Linked DNA regions of Homo sapiens. The main gene of each other region encodes a partner of the protein of the gene in region 3 in a complex. Each region holds a gene or a part of one and is shown on either strand. Other genes may lie near its edges. The genes, in order: KBTBD8, KBTBD2, CUL3 and KBTBD4.

Evidence for each region.
Region 1: CUL3 (region 3) and KBTBD8 share a complex: the UniProt entries of both Homo sapiens proteins name them as parts of the BCR(KBTBD8) E3 ubiquitin ligase complex.
Region 2: CUL3 (region 3) and KBTBD2 share a complex: the UniProt entries of both Homo sapiens proteins name them as parts of the BCR(KBTBD2) E3 ubiquitin ligase complex.
Region 4: CUL3 (region 3) and KBTBD4 share a complex: the UniProt entries of both Homo sapiens proteins name them as parts of the BCR(KBTBD4) E3 ubiquitin ligase complex.

Annotation. Positions count from the first base shown.
Region 1 is NC_000003.12:66,994,160-67,001,313, forward strand, and holds the start of KBTBD8 (kelch repeat and BTB domain-containing protein 8), read left to right. Parts: upstream 1-4,147; 5' UTR 4,148-4,196; coding exon 4,197-4,212; intron 4,213-4,821; coding exon 4,822-5,032; intron 5,033-7,154. UniProt on the Homo sapiens protein: Substrate-specific adapter of a BCR (BTB-CUL3-RBX1) E3 ubiquitin ligase complex that acts as a regulator of neural crest specification.
Region 2 is NC_000007.14:32,867,742-32,874,776, forward strand, and holds the end of KBTBD2 (kelch repeat and BTB domain-containing protein 2), read right to left. Parts: intron 3,140-7,035; coding exon 1,604-3,139; 3' UTR 431-1,603; downstream 1-430. UniProt on the Homo sapiens protein: Substrate-specific adapter of a BCR (BTB-CUL3-RBX1) E3 ubiquitin ligase complex that acts as a regulator of the insulin signaling pathway, modulating insulin sensitivity by limiting PIK3R1/p85alpha abundance in adipocytes.
Region 3 is NC_000002.12:224,505,338-224,512,372, forward strand, and holds part of CUL3 (cullin-3), read right to left. Parts: intron 6,246-7,035; coding exon 6,017-6,245; intron 1,667-6,016; coding exon 1,521-1,666; intron 796-1,520; coding exon 619-795; intron 1-618. UniProt on the Homo sapiens protein: Core component of multiple cullin-RING-based BCR (BTB-CUL3-RBX1) E3 ubiquitin-protein ligase complexes which mediate the ubiquitination and subsequent proteasomal degradation of target proteins.
Region 4 is NC_000011.10:47,571,683-47,575,991, forward strand, and holds the end of KBTBD4 (kelch repeat and BTB domain-containing protein 4), read right to left. Parts: intron 4,018-4,309; coding exon 3,911-4,017; intron 2,109-3,910; coding exon 1,248-2,108; 3' UTR 515-1,247; downstream 1-514. UniProt on the Homo sapiens protein: Substrate-specific adapter of a BCR (BTB-CUL3-RBX1) E3 ubiquitin ligase complex which targets CoREST corepressor complex components RCOR1, KDM1A/LSD1 and HDAC2 for proteasomal degradation.

The DNA.
Region 1 (7,154 bases), on a different chromosome or scaffold from region 3:
TGATTGACCTTGTGTTAGACAAAGAACCAGACATGTTCAATAGGGAGAAAATCCTACACTTCAATTTCAATACTCCATTTATTCCCAGACCTTTACATGCTGTTATCAAAAGACAGTTGGCTTTGGAGCCAAAGACCCCTAAAAGACTACGGGCAGGTTATTGAAATTCTCAAGGCTTTGGTCACTTCATTGTAACTTTGTTCTTAGAAAATTTAATTAAAAGGTGAAATTAAGTGCAATAAAGTAGGTAACACAACCATTAATTCCTTTTCCTTGTTCTATTCCTAAATTAAGCCCTATCAATATTAAAGTGAATGCTTTACCTTCTGGGTCAAGCCAAGATAAAGCAATTAGGCAAGAAAGTACTCCACATCACTTTTGCAAATAGTTCTATGGTGTATCCTCTTTGGATGCTCAGCTTAAATCCCACACCAGCTGAACAGAATTTCTTATCTCTTTCGAAATCCTTAATATTAATTGTTGGAAATACTTATTTTATGCTAACTAGGGGTTGCCCTTAGTTCTCATTTTCTAGTTGATTTTCATGGGAATAAGTTTTATTTTCACAGATAAACCATAAGATCCTTGAGATTAGGAATCTCATATCTCTACATCCATCTAATCTTTATCTATCTATCTATCTATCTATCTATCTATCTATCTATCTATCTAGTTTTGTATAGGAAACATTGATTCAGACAGTGCCTTCTTAGAATGCAGGTTGTGGGAGGAGGCAATCAATATTTCTGAGGAACTGAATATTACTGCCACTAGCTTCAAAGTCTTTTTTTCATGTATATGCTAAATTCCAAATACTTAAAAATTAATGCACATTAATATCCTCCAGTATGATCAAATTCAGTGATTCATGAAATGCAATCTTCTAGTTATTACCATGTTGAATCCTCATATAACCTCAAAGGGAATAAAAAACTAAAAATACAACAAAGCCCAGTGGTGCCCAATCAGTAAACCTAATGTTAGTATCTATTTAGAGTTTTGTATTTAAAGAAACTAAATCATGGGCAATATATAAAGTTTTAGAAATTTTAAAAAACTTTGTGTATCTGATGTCATATTAAATTTATATTGAATAATCACTTTTGTTGTTTCATTTATCTAGCCAATGCAGAAGTTTTAAGCAAGAAAAAAAAGTCACATTGAAAATATCAAGAAGGTTGTAGCTGTAGGCTGAGAAGTATAAATATATAAGGATGTCAGTTGCTAAAAGGTATGAGTTTCAAGTATTCTGTCTTTACTTTCATTTTATATAGCTCTGGTCAATTTCACAGCCCCAACCAGTACTGAACAGGGAAATTGGAAAACTGCAGAATTGATTTGCAGAAGTGAAGTTCTATTTTCTTTTACACCTTCTTCATCAGAGTTGCTATCATTCTTGTGTTGTGTGGTATTATTGAGAGTAGCCTGGGTATAGCTGATAATTGCTAAAAGTCATTCTCTTGAAATGAAAGCAGAAAAAAACAAGGAGCCTTCAATTTCTCATTTTCCAAATTTGATGCTTTCATAATCCTTCATTTTTGCTAGAATTTAAACGTAAAAACTTTTCTTCTCTCAAGCAACCATGATTATAGCAATTCTCTTTGCTTGTGATTCCTAGGTAAAAAAAAATATTAAAATAATAAAGCTCTAAGTGTCTAATTTGAACTAAATATAGGACCTTCAAATATTCTGGTTCAGTTTTTCAGTTTCCATCCTTAATTGATTTTACTTTAAACTTTAAATATAGGAGTAAATTGCAATATAGTACTTAATACCTTAAGATGAAAACTGGTTTACTTTTGCTGCTCTTTCCAGATGTGCAGTAGATTCAGGAGGTTTTTACTAAAATTCAAATTAGAGGTGTTTGAAAACAAAGCTGTAACCTTTGGCTATTTAGTATCAATCCTGAAAAGGAATCTCCCCAGTATTCTTACAGATCATTGAGAAAGAATTGTTGTGGTACAACTGACTGAATTTCGAGATCCTCCTACATATTCTGTGTTTTTTAAAAATGCATTTTAGTGATGATTAAATCTTTACTATGTAATGCCATCTGCCCAGTAGAATGGAGTCCATTTACAGTGTCATATAAATGGCAACTTTTTACCTATAATTTTTTTTCTATTTATTTTTAGATTGGCTTTTGTTCTTTGTATTCTGCTGCATCTCCAATTTATAAATCTTTGTGGGTCAAAGAATCAGAACACTGTCTTCTCACTAATCAAACAATATTGTCAAGTCTGTTTGTTACTAAGTTGAGAATTGAATTTTTAAAAAATTGGCCAAGTTTCTTAAGGCTTAAATAGATAGATGGCTACAAAACAACAACAAAGCACAAACAAAACTCCTCTATTTTAACAGATTTGAAAAGGTTGCCAGATAAAATACAGAACACCCAATTAAATTTAAATTTCAGATAAACAACAAATGATATTTCAGTTTAAATATTTCTCAAATAATGCATGCCCTGTATTTTTATTTGCAATATCGTCAGATGTTGTCAAACCCTAAGGATTAACGCCATTTTTTTCCTCAATACTAACCATATTGTCATAAAGTGCTACCATTTTAATAAATTAGAAAGCAACATCATAAAAACGAAAAAATAAAGTTATGAGTAACCAAAATTAAGTCAATTTCATCTATCCAGAAACGTGCATACAGGACATTCACAAAGAAGAAATTATAAGTGCATATGTATATGCAGAAACCCCAGTCATGAGGAAACACCACTTCCTGTTAACTTGCATGGGATTATAGTATTTTAAGTTCTAAATTTCTCAGCAGACCTAGAAGACAGAACTGAATTGTTTTTCATAATTATTTCTCTTTCTCAATCACAATTTAAATTCCAAGATCCTTTCTTTATCAAGAAGTTCAACGGTTTGATCTTTTCAGTGCTAGAAAAGTTATGCACACGGGCTAACTATATGTCTACTAGAAATTCTTCCCATTCGCTGATACTTCCTTACATTTTAACATCTAGAAATAGCATTCCCAATGTTAGCTCATTTGCACCTTACATTTATTTTTAAAATATGAAACATCTATAATGTGCCAGGCACCCCGTTAGATGTTAGAAACACAAGATGAGTAAATAAAAATTCGTCAACAGTAAAATTTTGATTTTCTTTCCAAAAGGTTGCAGCCTATGAAATCCATGGAGTACGGATTACTATTACTTCACGTTACAGATGAAGGATCTAAGCGCTCAGGGGTTGAAAGGTCTTATGTCAGTTCTCACATATAGTGACTAAAGAGCCAGGGCTTCAGTAATCATCCCTGGCTCCGGGCTCAGGGCATTCCGGTATTTTTTCAAAGGAAATTCCGGAATACTTAGTATTGTATCCCCTCCATTTCCCAAGAGCAAAAAGTAAAGCATCTTGGATCCCCTTGTAATGTTCACGTGAGGAACAGGTGTTCTCTGGGTGTGCTAGAAAAGCAAGGCACCAGTGGGAGTTGAAGATCCTAAGCAGCCGCTGTAACCAGACCAAGTTAATCTGTGGAAACCAGAGCACCCGGCCAAGGCGATGCTATTTCAATTGGGTGTCATAGGTGACTCATCAGAGACGCCTTGCTTTTGGGCCTTGTGATATTTTTCTTCAGGGTGGGACGTCAGATTTCCTTTGCATTTTTGGACAACAGCCCTCCTGTCCATTTCCACATTTTTCTGGTTTTACAGCTCTCACGCAGAGCTTGATTTCATACCGGAAGCTAGTCACTGGCAGGAAGTTTACGGAAGAAGAAAAAGGTAAAAAAATGTGCCGGGGGCCAGGAGAGAGGCCTAAAATGGGGAAATTCGCACTTGAAGAGCTTTCCCTACCCCAGCCCCTCAGAATGACAGTTCTCCTCCGCCAGAAGACTACCTCTCCCGGCAGGCACTGCGCGCTCGACGGCCACAGGCTGGCCAGCTCCCTGCTCTCCACCTCCATCCGAATCAGCCAATAGGAATTCCCGGCTTGGGCCTCCGCCCGACCCGGACCACGCGGGAGCCGGGGCAATCAAACTACATTTCCCGACACGCATGTGCTCGCGTCGTGGCCAATCAGCGCCAGGAATTCGGAGGCTAGGGGTGGAGCCAGATGCACAGGACACCCCATTGGCCAGGGGAAGCTTAGAAGAGCCGGAACCCGGGAGCTAGAGAAGCGAAATGACATTTCCTTTTTAAATAGCTGGAGTCGGGGCCCCATCGAGAAATGGCCGCGTCGGCAGGTGGGTCGTGTGGTGGCCAGGGCGGCGTGGAGGGAGGTGAGGGGGAAGGTGGGCCGGGGCCGGCCACAGGCAGTGGGATGAGGACGTAGCGGTGCGGAGCTAGAGGGAAGGATGAAGCGGTGGAGGGGAATGAGAAGAGGGAGGATGAATGGTGCGGAGGGCGGTGGGCGGTCCGGCGGGACCGGGATGGGGAGGCTGGGTACCCGCCGGCGCTGCGCCCCAGGAGGCAGCGGGAGGCGGCTTGAGGGGGCACCGGCGGCCGCCGTTGTTCGAGCTTCCCTCGTGAGGCTCTGCCCTCGGCTCTCGGCGGAGTCCGCGCAGACGCCTCTCCTGGGCTGCGAGCGCGTTTCCTCCGCGAGCACGGGTGCCGGGCTCGCCGGGCTCCGCAGGAGCAGGCTGGCCTTTGAACTTGTTCCGCCGATCGCGCTCCGCCCTCTGTCTCCCAGATCCTTAACTCGCGGTCCCACGAGGTCGTGCGTATATCCACAGACATTTGTATATATCTTGTAGGGGGAAAAAGCCTAGCAAGCAGACACACAAACAGAAAAATCCCGCGATGCCGTAACTGGCTCGGCACTTCTTGTAGTTGTACGATTTTTCTCCTCCTAGATTTAAGTAAGTCTTCCCCAACACCGAATGGGATTCCATCTTCAGACCCAGCCAGCGATGCCATGGACCCCTTCCATGCTTGCAGTATTCTTAAGCAACTCAAAACAATGTACGATGAAGGACAGTTGACAGACATTGTAGTGGAAGTGGATCACGGGAAAACATTTTCCTGTCATAGAAACGTTCTTGCTGCAATCAGCCCTTACTTCAGGTATGATGATGGTAGGAACTTCTGTTGGTATCTGCACCAAGCTCCCTTTCCCCCTCAGTATTGTCCACTTGATGTTTATATTGAGATGCGATAATGAAATGAAACCAATGACTTTGTTTCTTGAGACTAGAAAACAAGTCCTCTCTTAACTAAGACCTTCTTTTGACTTGAGGGATTCTTCTAGATTTCGGGTGATTGCTTTTTAAGTTAGTGGGCCTGTGTGTGTGTGTTTGAGGTAAATGACCAGAAAATCTAGACTTGTGCTGGTCAGTATGGAAGCCAGTAGCCATGTGTGGCTGTTTAAACTTAAATTATAAGTTAAATAAAATAAAACATTTAGTTCCCCAGGTACACTAAATACTTTTTGAGTGCTTGCTGGTCACCTGCAGCTAGTGGCTGCCATATTGGGCAGCACAGAAATACAGCATTTTCATCATTGACAATTTTATTGGACAGTGCTGATCTAGAATTTCTTTCAAAAAGTTATCCATAATGCATGTTTCTTTAGTGTATGGGACTCTTTTATAAAATAGTTTAAAACATGTAGCATGTTCCTTCAAAAACAAATTACCACTCAATAGATTGTTTAAATGCTATGGGGGTCAAAGCAAGAATGAATATAGTTTCTTTGTGCCTAAGGCCCCAAATTAATAATATCCAAGATTTCTAGAAGTATGTTAAACGAAGTTTTTGTTTTTACTTATATTGTCTACTATAAAACTTTTAAAAGTAAAATTTAAAAACTTGGGTCTGAAAAATAACTTCCTACTTTAAGATGAGTGGAAAAGGCAGTTTTCTGCATGGGCTTAACTTCTTTTGTGTCAAATGCTCACTTTAAGCCTTTCAGTATTCACAAGTGGTGCATAAATAATAGTAAAGTTATCAACCACACTCTGAATGTGATTTTTCCTTTTGAAGGTGCTTACCTTTATAGGGCACATAACCATATAATGTTCCAACAGTAGTTTCTGGTTCCTCTTTCTCAGAATACTGGGTTAAATATAGTCACTTCAGTCTGATGCTTGTGATGTAACCGTTTAGACTTGCCTAGGGTAGGTCATTGGACTACTAAGTATTAATCATCGCAAGACAGTGAGCTGGAAAGAAAAAAAAACTCACATATGCAGAAGGTATGAAGTTTGGCCTGGTAATGGAAACTTCTAGTGAGATTCACTTACCCAGATTATCTATTAGATATGGTTAGGTCATTTGTATGTTTAAATATATGTCACAGTTACTACTTATCAAGCTCTAGGCTAAGCTTACTTTACATGTATTGCCTTATATAATCTTTATAATCCTATCTCTGCATAGTTGTTGTTCCATTTTACTTATGAAGAAGCTGAGGCTCAGTGAGATTGAGTTTTAATAACCTGCCTAAATCATCTATCCAACAAGTAAATGGCAGAGGCTACATTTGATTACAGAGCCAGGCTTCTTAGTAGCCATATGACTCTTAAGGAACAAGAGTTGGTACAGTTTCCTTTAAAACATTTTTATTGTATATTGCATTTGAATAGTAAAAACAAAAACAAAACAAAACAAAACAAAAACTGCAAAGTAAAAATGTCTATATCTTACTGAAATTTAATAATCTGGATTATATCATTTAAATGTCATACTTATGTATGCTTACTAAGTATACTTATTAAGTATAATACTTAGTAAGCATACATAATAAATATGATATATGTATACATATTAAGTATACTTATTAAGTATAATACTTAGTAAGTATACTTATTAGTAACTTTACATAAGTATGACATTTTCACCTTGCAGTTTCATTTTTTATTTTTGAAGACCTGGAAAAAAATTTTACTTTAAAAGAAGTATGCTATGATAGATTTCTAATTTTCTTGATTCCTTAAAATCTTAAATTCTTTAATTTTGTTAAGTCAATTTTTAAAAGGAGTAAAAAATACTTGAGAAATTTTCTGGGGATACGATATGTGCATTGAAATAAAGATATTTGGCTAGAAACCTCAAGGATTAGAATTTGATCTCTTGCTAGAGGTTTTTGTACTGAAGTTTCTTGGTACCAGCGCTGCTTCCTGTGTGGGATGTAGAAAATCGTACTTAATGTTTCTACGTCTTGCATCACTAGTGGAAGAATTAGAAC
Region 2 (7,035 bases), on a different chromosome or scaffold from region 3:
TAAAGCATAGCGAAAGCCTAATCAGAAGATAAGGCTTATGGAAAAACAATGCAAGGTAGGGCTGTAAAGGTAATTTAAAGCCAAATTAGAGAGAGCCTTAAATGTGGTAAGGAATCTGGACTTCATTCAGTAGGCAGTGGAGGGGCAGTTCAAGTCTATAAACATGATCAATGATGTGCTCTAAAAAGAAACCATTTTGTTTGGGGTGAGGTTCAGGCATCATCTCAAGCTTCTAAAGATGATGATCAGAATCAGATGATTCTAACATGCCAGCAGGGTAGAAAGACACTAGCCTAAGGAAAGCCTATGCATATCTCTCAATCTTCATCAAACAAAATTTGGAAGAAACCACCTATTACTAGCTAAGTTTGACCTAGCAAAATCAAAATTTAAAAAGCAGACCATTCCCATAACAAAAGAAAAATAGATATTGAATATATACAATTTATTTAATAAATTAATGTCATTCAAAATACAGTGCCAGAACATGGTGCAGTTGAACATGCTAGTAATGTTTGTCATGAAGCACCTGTGCTCATGTTAGATTGGCGGCGCCCCACTACTGCTAGTGGTTCCTGGGATTAATGCCAGAGCAGCGCTAGTTATCTGCTCTTCTGCACAGCTAGTGCAGAGAATTCCTGAACAGTTCACCTTACTAATCCTAACCCCCACACGCACACAACAGGTTAAAAAAAACACACCCTGACAGCTAACAGATCTATACACAATCACTCTACAGTAATGCTTGTTATTAAATTAAGATGTAATGACCTGGTTAACCCACTCTAAATCTTGAAGATGGAGAACTACATCAGCAGCAGATAGTTATATGCATGAGCCAATGTTAACATAATACAGAAAGTGGAGGCTTTTTCTGATTAAAGCTCCACGCAGACCCGCACAATGAGTGGCTGGCAATTCTTACTGCAAGCCTAGCAACTTAAGTCCACACCTGGTAAATGACCAGCTGACTGGAAGACCTGTATTCTAGATAGACAAGTATAAGTTAGTGAAAAGAGAATACATGCACCTAATAGTATAGTTAGACTGATCCTGCAGTCATAGCTTTCCCTGTGTAATACCATAAAATTATGGAAGATCTTCCTCAACTAGAGTATAGGATTTAGACATTTCTATACCAACACGGACATTAGTGTTAAGTGCAGTTGAATTAATTACACTGAAAACTGTATTCCAGGACTTCAGAACAGAAGCACGGGAATGAAACACACATACTAAAATAACCTCAGCACAATTTGTGATACATCACACTAGGAACAGGAAACTACTTTTATAAATGAACTTTTTGAACTGTACATACACAGGGCTAACAATGTTAGATAATCCAGATTCTTATACTCTCATGATTACACATAAAGTTTCTCAATTATTGAATAATCTATTTCATATTATGGAAGCATATCTTTCTGTAAGACTCACTGATATATATTATACTGATGCAAATATTAAGTAGGGCATAAAAATAAAATTTATCAAAGATAGAATTTTATGTACTCATATTTAGTTCTTTCATAGCCTCTTTTGTTTAGCAAAGAAAATGACAAAGCACATAACTCAGGCGTGCACTCCCTGAACTTCCCCACTATACAGGTGGTAGTGCAACCATTTCTCCATCCAGTTCAAACTCTTCTGTCCCATCCGTTGAAAAAAGATAAGTTGGTGGTTTCCATGGAGACTCTTCAAGGCAGGATGGATAGAGTTTCCCCACAGTGCATCGAAAATCTCTCCCCAAGTCCCACAGTACACGTTCAGATATATGCTGCCGCAGAGACCACCGGTCAAGTTCCAGGTCATATTGGTAGGTGACGTATTTAGCTCGCTCATTTAAGTGGGTTTCTCGCATAAACACACATAGAGAATTTGAGATCACAACAGCTCTAACACAGGGGTCAGAGTACCTCTTAGCAGGGATGTTGGCTGCCATTTTCCACTCATTTTTATTCACATCATAAATTTCCACAGTTACTGAAGACCCATCTACAGTGCCAGAGGGGAGTCTTATGCCGGAATTGGTAGCAATATGCAACCCTCCAATATAGAAAATTTTATCACCAAAAGCTGCAGCTGAAGCAAAGGACCTACTAGTCTGTCTCATGGCCATTTCTACCCATGAGTCAGACCTTGGAAAATAACAGTACATGAGGTTCAGTGTCATCACATAAATGCAGTCATGAACCACAACTGCTGCACTCCATTGCCAAGCACAAGGTAAAGGGCTTACCATCGTCCACTCATCTTTCTCAGTGTCGTATCTTTCTACGGTCCTCCGATTAAGTTCTCCACCTACGCTATCTCCTCCAATTGCATAGATATAGCCTTCACAGCAAACCAAAGATGGCTTTATGCGGACAAAAAGCATTGGGGTCTTTGGAAACCAGGTATTTTGCTGTGCATCAAACCAATAAAAGCAATTCACAGTTCTGAAGGCAGTCTGAAGTTTGCTTGTTTTACTGTGATTTGTTTTTGTGTTTTTCAGAGGAACTTGACCCCCTGCTATGTAGATATCATTATCAGGAGTTACAACGGTCCCAACCTTATGCAAATCAGCTGGTGGGCTACATAACTTGTAAACTTTTTCTGCTTGGGGGCTGTAACAGACAGAAGAGTAAAGACTACAAGGATTTTCTGAAGATGCTTCAATGAAAATCATCATTTCCTCTTTAGTCATCCCAAGTCTTGGTTTGAAAAACTTGGGCATGGACTTATACAGACCTTGAACCACCACTGACTTATCATTGGGTGGCAGACCTTGAAACCAAGCTCTCTGTGTTACTTCTGAAAGTGCATCAATTCTGATTTGGCTAAGAACAGAAGACAAATACTGGGATCGTGATTCTGTGTTATACTCTAGCCACAGCATAGCAGCTTCTCGAACGGTTTCTTCCTTTTCTACATTTAAATTGTCACTACTGAGAATATCTATCAGTAGGTCATGTGACAGCTGCATGAACGCGTCCTGATGATACACAGCAGTGAACTTGTGCTCCACCATTCTTTTAGCACTCTGTTTTAATTCCTCACAACTGAAGAGATCAGCAAAACTCAACAATCGTACACAATTCTCTGCATTTATTTTTTTAATTAAATATTCTCGACAACGTTGTAACACATCTTCTACCTAGAATGAGAAGGAAAAAAAAAACAGGCTGATAGGGCCAGGACAGACACATTTTACTTTTATGTAAGACGTAAGTATATTAATCAGATGCCCATAGTGTAATTTTTATTTTCAGATACACACATCTGGGCTGAGATAAGGTCTTCTGGTAGTAATAAACTCAGAAGACTATAAAATTTTGCAGTATTTTTTCCTGCTCAGTGGCCTACTTAACTGTTCTATTTAGGAACCAGCAGTACAACAATAAATAGGCTCTTAAAAAACAAAACAGCCTTAAAGAATAGGTAAGGAAATTCACACATAAGTCATACTTTCCTAGACTTTATATATAATTGAGAGAACTATATGAAAAAATGTAAATAAATCATAGTATAGAGAAAATTATTGTTGTTGAATAACTGGATTCTGGTTTCCTCAATTTGAACACAGTCACATAAAACCAGAAAATCATGCACAATGAGTAAGAGTAGTTATTTGCCATTCTTATCGAGAGGTAAGATAACAAAGCAACACGAAATAGACTTACGTGCAGTTATAAATCACCTACATTTAAATGACCCATCTTAGCCACTGTAAGCTTCCTAGATTTGTTTTTTCTTAAGAAGGTAGATCTCAGTTGAATCAGATGTGCTACCCACTATACTTATTCAGCATCACAGTGATTAACTAGAAACTGTTTACACTGACAAGTCAGGTTGCTTGGATTTAAAACTTAATTGGCCAATTAGTACCTGGAAACTACTTATTAGGAAAGAAGCTTCACATCTCTAAACTTCAATTTTCTCTTATATAAAATGGGGAAATAATAGTTATCTCCCTCAAATGAGCCCTGTAAGGATCAGATGAGAATATATATAAAGTATCAGTACACCATCTGGTACTGAAACATATGATCACTTCATGTGGTTGATAGTGAAAGTAATATTGGTAGTCATAGAATGCCCCATCTCAGGCTTCCAGGGCAACACAGTCTAAGAGGCAGAGTCCTGTTTTGCATTTGAGCAAGCAGAAGTAGTATACGGTTTTCGTTAAAATGGCAGAAAAAAAATGTTAAGGAGCAGTGTCAATATTTACAGTAACAAAGTATTCTGGAATCAGATTTTCTTAAAATTCCTTAATGCCTTAGTAATTCTGAGAAATGCCTGCTTTTAAAAGAAGGACCAACAAAAAATTAGCTGGATGTGCTGGTGCATGCCTATAATCCCAGCACTTTGGGATTACAGGGAGGAGGATTACTTGAGCCCAGCAATTTGAGACTGCAGTGAGCTATCACCATGCCACTGCATGGTGGCATGCCACTGCATTCCAGCCTGGGCAACAGAACAAGACATGTCTCTAAAAATAAAAAGTAATGACAACTTGCAAACTATATAAAGACAGTGCTTCCAATAAGCATTTCTCCCGTTCAAGTTTGGAATTACTAGTGCACCAGCAAGCTACCCCAGCCTCAGTTTCCCCAGAGTTGTGGGTAGAGTAGAACACTAACGATAAAGTTAGTGTAATAAGGAGTAAAGGTTGGCCAGGTGTTGTAACTCGCACCTGTAATCCTAGCACTTTGGGAGGCCTAGGTGAGAGGAGTGCCTGAGCTCAAGAGTTTGAGACTAGCCTGGGCAACATAAGATCTTGTCTCTACAAAAAAATCAAATAATTAGCCAAGTGTGGTGATGCATGTCTACAGACCCAGCTACTCAGGAGGCTAAGGCTGGGGGATGACTTGAGCCCAGATCGAGGCTGCAGTGAGCTGTGATCTCACCACTGTGCTGCAGCCTGGACAACAGAGCAAGACCCTGTCACACAAAAAGTTGAGTATCCCTAATTCAAAAATTCAAAATCCAAAATGCTCCAAAAACTGAAATGTTTTGAGTGCTGACATGACACTTGAAATACTCACGGGAGCACTTCAGAGTCTAGATTTTTAGATTAGGGATGATGTAAATCTAACATATAATGCAAATATCCTAAAATCTGAAAAAATCTGAAACTGGCTGAACTGGATTTCTGGTCCCAATCATTTTGGATAAAGGGTACTCAACCTATGGAAGATTAAAAAGGAAGGAGACTACATAAAGCATGAACTGAGTTCTGGTTTCCAGAATTATACCCAGGTGTTGGCATTCAACCAGTGTCATGCATACTCATTCAGTGCATATTTATTAAGTACTTAACAAATATCACGAACAGTGCTCTCCAAATTTAACCTTTGATCTAAAGGTTCTCCCTCTGAAGAAACTTAGTGAAATACAGTGTTATTCCAAAACAGGAGATGAAATGAAGAAAAAAACTCTTATATTCCTCTTAAAATTTAAAAAGGGAACATGATGGGGAAATAAAGAGTAAAACAGTTTGTCATACATAAATATATCAACCATCACTTGTTTTGTTTAAATACTTCTCCTTAATTGCTCAATATGGTCACATAGCCATTATAAATATTTATCATAATTTCCACCAAGTTTTCTGTGAAAAATAGTACCATGAAAAATTAGTATATCTAAGCTCTAAGCAAAAAAAAAAAAAAAAAAAATTGAAACACTTAAATTCAATAAACACTGTTAAAAATTACTTTAATTTGGCTGGGAGTGGTGGCTCATGCCTGTAATCCCAGCACTTTGGGAGGCCAAGGCGGGTGGATCATTTGATGGCAGGAGTTCCAGACCGGCCTGGCCAATGTGGTGAAACCCCACCTCAACTAAAAATACAAAAATTAGCTGGGCATGGTGGTACATGCCTGTAATCCCAGCTATTCAGGAGGCTGAGGCAGGAGAATCACTTGAACCCAGGAGGCAGAGGTTGTTGTGAGCCAAGATTGTGCCAGTGCACTCCAGCCTGGGCAACAAGAGTGAAATTCCGTCTCAAAAAAAAATTACTTTAACTTGAAATCAAAATTCTCAGGTATATTAGGTAGTAAAACACACGAAACCAGTATAAAATTTTCACCTATCTCTTTTATTAACAGATTTACATTCCCATCACAAAACTACTTAGTTTACTGGGTAATCAAATCCTATTGTTTTTCCCTTACACATTTTGTAAAAAGAAAAAAACCTTTTACCTTCTAAAACACGTAATAAGAAAATTACATAGATAAAAGACATTACTGGGCCAGGCATGGTGGTTCATACCTGTAATCCCAGGGCTTTGAGAAGCCAATGCAGGAGGATTGCTTGAGCCTGGGATTTTGAGACCAGCCTGGGCAACACAGTGAGATCGTGTCTCTACAAAAAATAAAAATATTGGCCCAGGGAGTGGTGGCTCATGCCTGTAATCCCAGCACTTTGGGAGGCCAAGGTGGGTGGATCACGAGGTCAGGAGATCGAGACCATTCTGGCTAACAACGGTGAAACCCCATCTCTACTAAAAATACAAAAAATTAGCCGGGGGTGGTGGTAGGCACCTGTAGTCCCAGCTACTCGGGAGGCTGAGGCAGGAGAATGGCATGAACCCAGAGGCGGAGCTTGCATCTGAGCTGAGATCGCGCCACTAGACTCCAGCCTGGGTGACAGAATGATACTCCGTCTCAAAAAAATAAATAAATAAAAATAAATAAATAAATAAATAAATAAAAATAGTAGCTGGGCATGGTGGTGCACACCTTTAGTCATCCCAGCTACTCAGGAGGCTGAAGCAGGAGGATCACCTGAGCCCATGAGTTCAAGGCTTCAGTGAACCATGACTGCACCAATGCACTCCAGCCTGGGTGACCGAACGAGACCCCATCTCAAAAACATAAATAAAAAATGTTTAACAATGTTTCCTCACAAAATAAACCACATAATAAACCAATAAGCTACAACTCATGTATGTAACTGAGTAAAAAAATGCTTACCTGTAGGCTGGACACAGTGGCTCACGCGTGTAATCCCAGCACTTTGGGAGGCCAAGGCAGGTGGATCACG
Region 3 (7,035 bases):
AGTTGGTCAGGCTGGTCTCAAACTCCCAACCTCAGGTGGTCTGCCCACCTCGGCCTCCCAAAGTGCTGAGATTACAGGCATGAGCCACCATACCTGGACAGTTGTTCAGTTTTTTTGAGACAAGGTCTTGCTCTGTCGCCCAGCATAGAGTGCAGTCACGCGATCACAGCTCACTGCAGCCTTGAACTCCTGAGCTCAAGTGATCCTCTGCCTCAGCTTCTGGGACAACAGGTGTATACCACTGTGTGCCACTAATTTTTTTCTTTTTTCTTTTTTTTTGTAGAGATGGAGTCTCACTAAGTTAACAAGGCTAATTTCAAACTCCTGGCCTCAAGAGAGCCTCCTGTCTTGGCCTCCCCAAATGCTGGGATTATAGGCATGAGCCACCAAGCCCATCCAGTTGCTTGTTTTTGAAGCCAATTACACATTAAGTGAAATGTCTAACTACGTTTGGGCATGTCAAGTATTTCAAACAATATTTTTTAATAGACCATGGCACCCATTTAAGCACAGCAATGGGTCATGCTTAATTTTTATCTGTGAAATGTCCTAATTTTACATATAATTTTATATCTTTAAATAAAATTAAATGTTATTTTCAAATGCATTACTACTTACCCCTTTGACTCCCTTTTTCAGCTTATCATCAATAAATAATGAGAGGTATTCAGGAGACCTGGAGTTGAGGTTGAGAAAATACTCAAAGTCACCCGCAATAGTTTGTTTAAAGAGACGGTCATTGTTGAATGATTCCAGGAGGAAGCGATCGAACCTACTCTTCAGATCCAATAAGCCCTTAGAAATAAAAACAAAATTTAGGACACATTATAATAATTTTTCCATAAATAATACACTTATGACCATGTATGTTTATCTTAACTTTGCTGGTAATAAACATGTATATTCATTTTTAAACTTACAGTTTTGATATTATTTTCAAGCCTATATCTAAGCCTCTATTAAAAATGTCAATGAGAGAAGTATTATAACTTCCATATATGTATTAATACAATGCAAACGAACCAAAGAACCTCCTCACTGTTTCTCATTCTCCTGTCTTGATGGAATGGGTTAGCCAGTGAAAAAAATTAGCTTAAAAAATGTACCAAAAAAAGCTGATTATGTTAAAACACAAAACATGGCACATAATTTATTCATAGTACTCCTTGAAAACAAAACATTTTCAAACAAAAAATACTTAAACCAGTTGTTTTTTCCAATATACTACAGTATACAAACACTAAGGCATACCAAAGAACCTCACATTCACTATTGAGGCTATTTAAACAAGGTCTTCATCAAAGAAGTTAAATGAAAAGTAGCAGCTGAATTTTAGCTCCCTGATATAAATACGCACACCTTGCAAAATCCTAAAATATGTAGGATAATTACAAATATTAATTTACTACTGGGACAATTAAGTTGAAAGTACACAATACACAGCATGGTAAAAGTGGCCTTTTTAGCACTTGTCAAAATGCCTTTATCATAAACACAGAGAATCTTCTGGGTTTACTTACCTGGATATAGTCAACAGGATTCTTTCCTTCTCCTTCTTCAGAAACAAGAGCTTTACCTTGCTCCCTCAAATAGGAACTCATACACTCACACATTGTTTTCAAACCATTTGGCACACGACTAAATAACTTGTACATGCAACCAAGGTCTACAAATCAGAAAACACAAATTGGCTACATTAAAGATTAAAGAAAAAAACACGAATCTCTGTTCACGCTATAATACTGAGAGAAGCTTATTTCTCCATTACCCCCATTTGCTGACCACATGACTATTAAAAATATACATATATTGATATGAAAACATGAAGAAGTAGGCTAGTTAATGGTTATTATTGTAATTTATAAAACACAACTTTTAGATGAGATGCTTTGAAACCATCAATTAAATGTCCTAGCAAATTTAAATTTACATGGAAGAGATGTCAAAAACCATAATAAACAAGTAATGTCACAAAAACATGGCAACTGCAGTTTTGAGTTCATAAATACTTTATCCTACATAACTCTAATGCAGACCTAATGACACTACAAAACGTCTACAAAAAGGGTCACTAATTAAGAGGTAATTGGTAGTCCCTGTAATGAGGAAGAAATTTTAAAGCCAGTTTAAGTCTTATGGGTATTTCCAAAGGTTTAACTGATAATCATGAAAACAAATCAAATGAACTATACTAGGATTTACTTCATTACACCTCAGGTAAAGTTTTTATGAAATGTATAATATAAATACCACTTCTTCAATATTTTCCTGAGAGCAATCCCTAATGTTTCCCAGGTAGCATCCTAAGCCAATATCTGTACTTCAAAATTTGGTCTATCTCACTATACTTTTTAAATTTAGAATGAAAACTCTGGATCCTATCCATTTTTTAATATCATTTTTCACAAGACTAAAATACAGATTTTAAAATACAGTTTTCCCATATGTCTAGTGTTTCTTTGCAATAACAACTTACTGGGAGAACACAGTGTCAGAACTTTACAATGATAATTTTAAAAGTTTTACAATCAATAACTTTTTAAAATGGCATTAAGAGTTTCTAGATCAGAGGCTGACCAATGTTTTTTCTGTAAAGTATCAGATAATAAATATTTTAAAATGTGAGCCATAGAGCTCTGACTCAACTACTCTGACGCTGTAGCAAGAAAGTAGCCACAGATAATACATAAATTATTCAGTGTGACTATGTTTCAAATAAAACTTCATGGACCCTGAAAATTTATATAAATTTTCATGTGTAAATACTCTTGATTTTTTTTTTTTTTTTAACAAAACTGGTAGTGCACCAGGCAGGCCCTAATTTGCCTACCTTGGTCTACAGTTCTAAGAGTAGTTTAGAGCTTAAAGTTGTATACATTTTTAAAATATTTCAAAGCAAGATTTACAAAGTTTTACTAAACTTTATTTCAGTGACTTTCAGCAGCAAATTTTAGTTAGTTTCCATTAATAATATATGCCCATAGTAACCTACACATGGCAATTTTATAGCTTCTCACATACTTAGCATAAATTACAACCAAGTTTCCCATATTTAGAACAGGTATTACAAATGCAACAATCTATGGACACATACTACAGTAAATGTGGCACACCAAATACTTCTAACAAAATGGTTCACAACTTGTCTATTTCAATCCTATGTTGTTGTAAGTTTTGCTTAGATATTACATGTTGTGTATTTAGTTGTACATAAATTACTACAATTTCATTGTATTTAAATGTTGGGGTAAAGGGAATGTAAAAGTAAATGAAAATAATTTGGCATGCAAAAATTAAATATCATTATTTCTACATACACTTAATAAAATAATAAGATACTGGCGAGACACGGTGGCTCACGCCTGTAATCCCAACACTTTGGGAGGCTGAGACGGGCGGATCACAAGGTCAGGATATCGAGACCACCCTGGCTAACACGGTGAAACCCCCCTGTCTTTAATAAAAATACAAAAAATTAGCCGGGCGTGGTGGCGGGAGCCTGCAGTCCCAGCTACTCATGAGGCTGAGGCAGGAGAATGGCATGAACCTGGGAGGCAGAGCTTGCAGTGAGCTGAGATCCCACCACTGCACTCCAGCCTGGGCGACAGAGCAAGACTTCGTCTCAAAAAAAAAAAAAGATACCTCTGAACTTCATTTCATAGTGCTATCTGCATCTAATAATCAATCCAATTTATCCTCCATTCACAGTGAGAAAACTGTTTTTCATTTTCTGATTTATGAGAATTTGGCTTCATAATGGTGAAGTTGGCTCTGCTATATTCTCAACAAGAGCAACATTTTTTCCAAGAGCAGGGCCTACCACAATTAGGATATTTTGCCACCAGGTTTCTAGCGGAAGCTCAGAAAAATTAACCCCCCCACCTTTTTTTTCTTAAGACAGGATCTCCCTCTGTAGCCCAGGCTGGAGTGCAGTGGCATCATCTTGGTTCACTGCAGCCTTGACCTCCCCAGCCAGATTCAAATGATCCTCTCACCTCAACCTCCCAAGTGGCTGGGACTAGGCATGTGCCATCATGCCCAGCTAATTTTTGTATTTTTCATAGAGACAGGGTTTCACCAATTTGCCCAGGTTGGTCTTAAACTCCTGAGCTCAAGCGATCCACCTGCTTCAGCCTCCCAAAAATACTGAGATTACAGGCGTTTGCCACCCTGCCTGGACAAAAGCAGGATTTTAAAATTTAATTTAGAATCACAGATAGCTACTGTGTTGTTGGAAACCTAAGGTACTAAATAAAGGAGAACTCTGGTGAGTACTATTATGGTATTCCTTCATTCACGTAAGTGCTCGCCATGATAGGCATACCTGACACCTTTTACATACATCTCCACACAGGTTACAGAGATGCTGTAATTCAGGTATGCCCAACAACCTCTCCATCAAACATTTCCTATCCCCTAAGGTAGGTAAGAAAGCATTCATTCAATACCTAAACAGTACATTACATAATTTATCAATACTCATTTTGTTTAAGCAGGGCAAATGCTTTGCATAAAGTCCCAGTCTACCAGAGACCACTTAGAGAAGGGTCATCGAATTAGAACCCGTGGGGCAAATACAGCCTGCCATCTATTTATGTACAGCTCATGAACTAAGGATGGTTTTCACATTTTTAATGGCTGAGGAAAAACTGTAAAGAATGCTATTTAGTGACACATAAAAATTATATGAAATTCAAGTTTCAGGGCCCATAAATAAAGTCTTATAGAAACACAGGATTATTCATTTGTTATTGTCTAGGACTATTTTCTCACTATGACTGCGTGGCTCACAAGCCATTTTATTCAACAACAAAAAAGCTTGCCAACCCCTGACTTGGACCTCAATTTTAGAAAACACAGCAAATATACTAGATGACTTCTGTTTTTTTTTTTTTTTTGGCTTTTACAAAAAAGGTTTAACTGAAGAGTCTTTTAAAAAGGAAGCCTCTCTAGTTTTTTTTGTTTTTTTTTTGTTTTTTTAAATTACATATAACTTTTCAGGGATTTCTCATATATACAAACATTTAACAATTTTAAAACACAAGGTAAGGATTCCACTAGAGATAAACATGGCTCAACTTCCCACCAGCTTTCGTTTTCCTTTCTCTTGTATCCTCCTTCTCTTTATAATTCTCCTTTAAAAAATTTTTTCATTCCCTACATAGCTCATGACCCCAACAGGCAATATGTATTTCTTTTACTAAAAAGAAGTGGATAAAATATTGCTTAGATTTCGTCTAGGAAGCAGGAGAACAAAGTACCATGTTTTTTATTTCCTAATACCATATAAGTGGTAAAGGCAAAGTTTTAAAACAAAGCATCAGAAACTAAGAATAGAGGATATGGTTATTGTTCTTTTAACTTGTAATTTCTTCTAGGATACTTGTCACAATTTTTCTTTTACCCCAGGAAAATAAATAGCTATAAAAAACAAATGTTAGTTATCTCAAAAATGTTCTTTACTTTTATGCACTCCTCCTTCCTCCTTTTCCATTCTGTAACTTCAGTGTTCCCCAAACCAATCTAATTTATCTAAGTATGTCAATATGGAAGACACAAATATTTTTGCATTTTCAGCACCCTGTCACAACTAAATCCCAAAGGAAAGTCTACAAAAATCTTAAGGTGGAAACTTAAGGTTTTAAGAGAATCACAAAACCCCAAGAGAGTATGTAGGACTAAAGAGAGCCCACACCCTTTGGTATACAGGAAGTACAGGAATGAATGAGGAGCTCACTGGGCTCACCAATACTATTACACCTTTTATCTTCTGGATTAAATGTAAAATGAGACTTAAAGACAGGAAATGCTCAATTCATTAGAAATATCTAAAATCTTCGTTAGTAAGACAGAATCAAGCTTGGAAATCCCATTAAAGTTAACAATGGAGACAAATTAACAATACACACCAAAACTTCTTGAAAGCTGATATTATCTGCTTTAATTGTAGGAAAATTTTAAAAATATCGATAAGGCAGAGTAAGGATTTAATTATTTTTCAATCGGTAACACTTACCTTCTGTCTTTCCATTTTTCAACATATGTACTAGCCCAGAATTCTCCATTTCTACTATAGTCTTCATGTGCTTGGAAATGAGTTCCCTTTCAACCACCTTTACAATTGGTTCTTCCGTTGATTTGTCAAGGCAGTGCATCACTCGTTCTATTTCTTCATTAATTCTAGCTTCTACTTTCTTTATATATACTGAAGCACTATTTTCTGCTAAAAATTTCTGGCTTTCCATCTGCCATTTAAAAATATATATATTTTTTAAACATAGAAGAAAAGAGTGTTTTTGCTTTTAGCTGGGTTTCTACAGTGTTTATAATAAATCAGCCTAAATAAAATAAGTACTATTAGCATTTTGTGTAATTTCTCATTACACGAAAGACTGATATAGTCTGAATTATATCCTTTAAAGCCTTTGGTATTTACATAATACTAAATTAAAACATTATCTGTAAGCAATGTTTTTCAAACTGTGCCAATGTACTCCAAAAAATAGCAGAACAAGTATATACACGCCAGTGAGGGTCAAAAGCTTAGAAGCATCTGACTCCAAGATACAGTGGGACATTCTTTTTTGATTTGTTTTAATGTAAAATTATAACCAGAAAGATTCATCATGTTTATCATAAGCTTTGCTGGCATACTGCTGGTTAATTAAGTCTTCCAGTGCCATCCCACTCCCAGTCTCAAAGAGTAAACATGTACACTAAAGTTTGAAAATAAGAGCTTTTAAATAACTATTCATCTTTTTTTTCTTTTTTTTTTTGAGACAGAGTCTCGCTCTGTCACCCAGGCTAGAGTGCAGTGGCGCGATCTCAGCTCACTGCAAGCTCCACCTCCCGGGTCCACACCATTCTCCTGCCTCAGCCTCCCGAGTAGCTGGGACTACAGGCGCCCGCCACCACGCCCGGCTAATTTTTTTGTATTTTTAGTAGAAATGGGGTTTCACCGTGTTAGCCAGGATGGTCTCAATCTCCTGATATAGTGATCCACTCGTCTCAGCCTCCCAAAGTGCTGGGATTACA
Region 4 (4,309 bases), on a different chromosome or scaffold from region 3:
GAGCTTAACAGGACCAACAGGGCTTAAGCCCAGACTTGACGTAACAGAAATGTGCCAATAGGTAATAGGTAATTTTTCTTTCTCTGACTTGTTTTGTTTTCTTGAAATAACACTGTTGTGTGGCTAGAAAGGAAAAGATTTAGTGTGGCTTGTATTCATGGGATACAGGACAGGGATGGGGCTATCATCTTTTCTTGAATAGGGCTAAAGAAGTATTTTAACAAAAATCTATTATGTACCTAATATTGTGCCTAATAATATTTAGCACCACAACTCAAAAAACATTTAGCACTTGAAAAAAGGAGACTCACCTCTGGCTCTTTGCCACTGTCAGAATCTGAATCTCACTGGCCCTGTGGAGTAGGGATCCTATCTGGAGAAGTGGGAGCATGGGCTGCAGTCAGGACTGCTGCAGACTGAGCCATGTGATGGTACGTAATGAGTTCCCCTGAGGGAATGAAACACCCTCACCCCTTCAAAGTCACCCCTTTGGAATTCAACACAGACACACATATCCCTTCAAAAACTTTTATTTGTATCAACAGTTCCTAGCTCTTGACTTAGCTTAGAGCTTTTAAAAGAGCAGACACCTTATATATTTGAGATTGAAAAAGTTTCTGCTATTAATCAGAAATAATCATTTCTATTTTCTGGCTTACCCCTTGGAATAAGCCAAAAATAAAACCAAAGTTACATTTCCTGACAGATGGATAAGAAAACAATAGAAGGAACATCCTGAATTCTAGAGTTGACTCTTGCTGGTGAAGTACACCTTCAGCTTAGTCCATTCTCCTAAGTAAAGCCTGAAGGAAAACTCTTAACACCTAATTCTTTGTGGAAAAATGATCAACTAGCCATTTCACAGGCTATAGAACAAAAGTACAATTGGGCATCTTTCCTTATGTCCTGGGATCAGGGGTGCTTACATTTAACATTGATCAGGTAAAGAGGAGAGGCTGTGCCTAAGGTCTGAGAAAAGGCTTGCTCTAAGCAAGCTGTGGTGAGGCACAGGATGACTAGGGAATGGCAGAGAACAGGCTGGCCTACTGTCAGTTCAAGCAACCAGCTGAGCAGCAGCAGTCTAAAAAGCCCCAAACAGAACACCTCCATGGATTCAGGGAAGGGCTGAGGCACTGCCTTTCTAGTATGTGCCAAAAAAAACATAACTCTGAATTGGGGCCCAGGGGACTTTGAGTTTGTATGGGGAGGGAAAAGGAGTGAGCAGTTCTCCTCCCCTCCCCACAGCCTTAGGCCAACACAAACTGCAAATTGGTAAGCAGCACCTTAATACCTCTTGTGACAGTTACGGCTGAAGTGGCAGGGTCAAGCTTGTAGGTGTTGGCATCCCCCTTTTTATATCGGTCCCGGAAGACATAGATGCTCCCGTTACAGCTGGCAATCTTCCAGAGGGATGGGGCAGAGCTCCAGGCCTCAGGAAGGCAAAGCCGGGTGAAGCTGTCTAGCAAGGGATTGTAGCACACCAGGGAGTCCCCTTCAGCCACGATGAACACCAGATCTTTATGCACAGCTGCGTGCATGCGGCCTGCAAAGGGCAGCACATAGGGCTTCACATGGCATTTGTCTGTCTCTGTGTCAAAGCACTGGATGAGTCGGGAAGGTTTGGTAAAGAAGTCCAGATCATTCTCCTCCCCCCCTAGTAAGTAGATGATCCCGTTGAGGTTGGCACCAGCAGCCCCTGACACAGCCACCTCTAGCTGAGTTGTCTCTGTCCACACATTATCACCTACGCGATAATAAATGACTGCGTTGGAGAGGGTATCTTGCAGTGTCTTGCCACCCAGTGAATATATGGCATCTTTCCCGGGCACAGACACCAGGGTGTGCTGGAGCCGGTCCCGAGGCAAAGGAGCACACCACTCCCAGTCAACGGTGGCATTGTTGCACTTCCACATGCGCCGTGGGATGGACCCTCCCACCACATACAAGTCTCCACCATGCTTGCAGGCCGCAGTGATCTGGTGGCACAAACTGTTTTGGCCACTTACACTGATGGAGTCATCTTCTGCACAGTGCAAGGACACAGCCAACGAGTGGGTACGAGATGACTCTTTCCCAATCAGGTAAATGTGCACATTCTCCCCAATTTCCTATTGGCAAAATTAAAATTATATGACAGCTGTTAAATTCTAGGCTAAGGCTCAGCTAAGACACATATCCTTAAGATCCTGGCCCTCACACTTGTTCCTAGCTTTATCATACTACTCTCTAATTACTGTATGGCATCCAACTCTCCTCTAGTCACTTTCTTTGAGGCAATTTATGCCGGGCGGAGAATCTGTTGTATTCATCCTTGTAGCTTTTAAAAAACTCTCATAAGCTAGTGCTTCAGACAAAGGGTGATTAAGATTGTTAACTTGATGACAGTAGTTCTCAAGGAACTTTGAAAGCTCATAGATTGGTGGTACTGGGGTTACAAAGACATCCTTCTCCCCAGCTCATATCAACTTCAAGCCAGAGATAACTTATTCAAAAATAAATAAATAAATACAAAAAATTAAAAAAACAAGAGATGGCCGGGCACAGTGGCTCACACCTGTCATCTCAGCACTTTGGGAGGCCGAGGTGGGCAGATCACCTAAGCTCAAGAGTTCGAGACCAGCCTGACCAATATGGTGAAACCCTGTCTCTACTAAAAATACAAAAATTAGCCGGGCGTGGTGGTATGCACCTGTAGTCCCAGCTACTCGGGAGGCTGAGACAGAAGAATTGCTTGAATTTGAGAGGCGGAGGTTGCAGTGAGCTGAGATCATGCCATTGCACTCCAGCCTGGGAGACGGAGTAAGACTCTGTCTCAAAAACAAACAAACAAAACAAAACAAAAAACAGAGACGACCATTCATAATCTGGCCATCAAAAAGAGGCCAGGTTAGGCCAGGCGCATTGGCTCATGCCTGTAATCCCAAGACTCTGGGAGGCCAAGGTGGGTGGATCACCTGAGGTCAGGAGTTCGAGACCAGTTTGGCCAACATGGTGAAACCCATCTCTACTAAAAATACAACAATTATCTGGGCGTGGTCGTGGGCGCCTGAAATCTCAGCTACTCGGGAGGCTGAGGCAGAAAAATCGCTTGAACCCAGGAGGTAGAGGTTGCAGTGAGCCGAGATCGCACCATCGCACTCTAGCCTGGGCAACAAGAGCGAAACTCCATCTCTCTCTCTCTAGCCTGGGCAACAAGAGCGAAACTCCCATCTCTCTCTCTCACACACAGACACACAAAGAGGCCAGGTTAGGCCAGGCACAGTGGCTCACACCTGTAATCCCAGCATTTTGGGAGGCAGAGGCAGGCAGACTATCTGAGATCAGGAGTTCCAGACCAGCCTGGCCAACATGGTGAAACCCCATCTCTACTAAAAATACAAAAATTAGGCGTGGTGGCAGCACCTGTAATCCCACCTACTTGGGAGGCTAAGGCAGGAAAATAGCCTGAAACTGGGAAGTGGAGGTTGCAGCGAGCTGAGATTGCACCACTGCATTCCAGCCTGGGCAACAAAGTGAGAATCCGTCTTAAAAAAAAAAAAAAAAAGGCCGGGCGCGGGGGCTCATGCCTGTAATCCCAGCACTTTGGGAGGCGGAGGCGGGCGGATCACGAGGTCAGGAGATCGAGAGCATCCTGGCTAACACGATGAAACCCTGTCTCTACTAAAAATACAAAAATTAGCCGGGCGTGGTGGTGGGCACCTGTAGTCCCAGCTACTAGGGAGGCTGAGGCAGGAGAATGGTGTGAACCCGGGAGGCGGAGCTTGCAGTGAGCCGAGATTGCGCCACTGCACTCCAGCCTGGACGACAGAGCAAGACTCCATCTCAAAAAAAAAAAAAAAGAGGCCAAATTAACTGATGGCAAGAATGCATGGAGAGTATGCAGTCTCAACAATTAAGAGATTTGCCTTACCTTCAAGCTTGTCCTGAGTGACTCTGCAAAAGCCTCTCTTTCCTCTTTATTAAAGTTGATCCAGGCTTCTATTGCCTCTGTTGGGTTCTGAGAACACGGAACTCCATCTGTGAGAGCCAGAGGAAAGGCATGGTCAATGACAATCCGAAAGAGAAATTCAGAGTAAGGGACTTTAAAGATGTGAACCACTTTATTAGACTACTGCTGGGCATGTGTATATGTGTACATGCATACATACACATATACATGAAATTAACCTAAAATTGCTTTTTTTTTTTTTTTGAGGCAGGGTCTCACCCTGTCGCTCAGGCAGAAGTGCAATGGCGCAATCACCATCACCATAGCCTCAACCTCCTGGGCTCAAGCAATCCTGTTTCAGCCTCCCAAGTAGCTGGGACT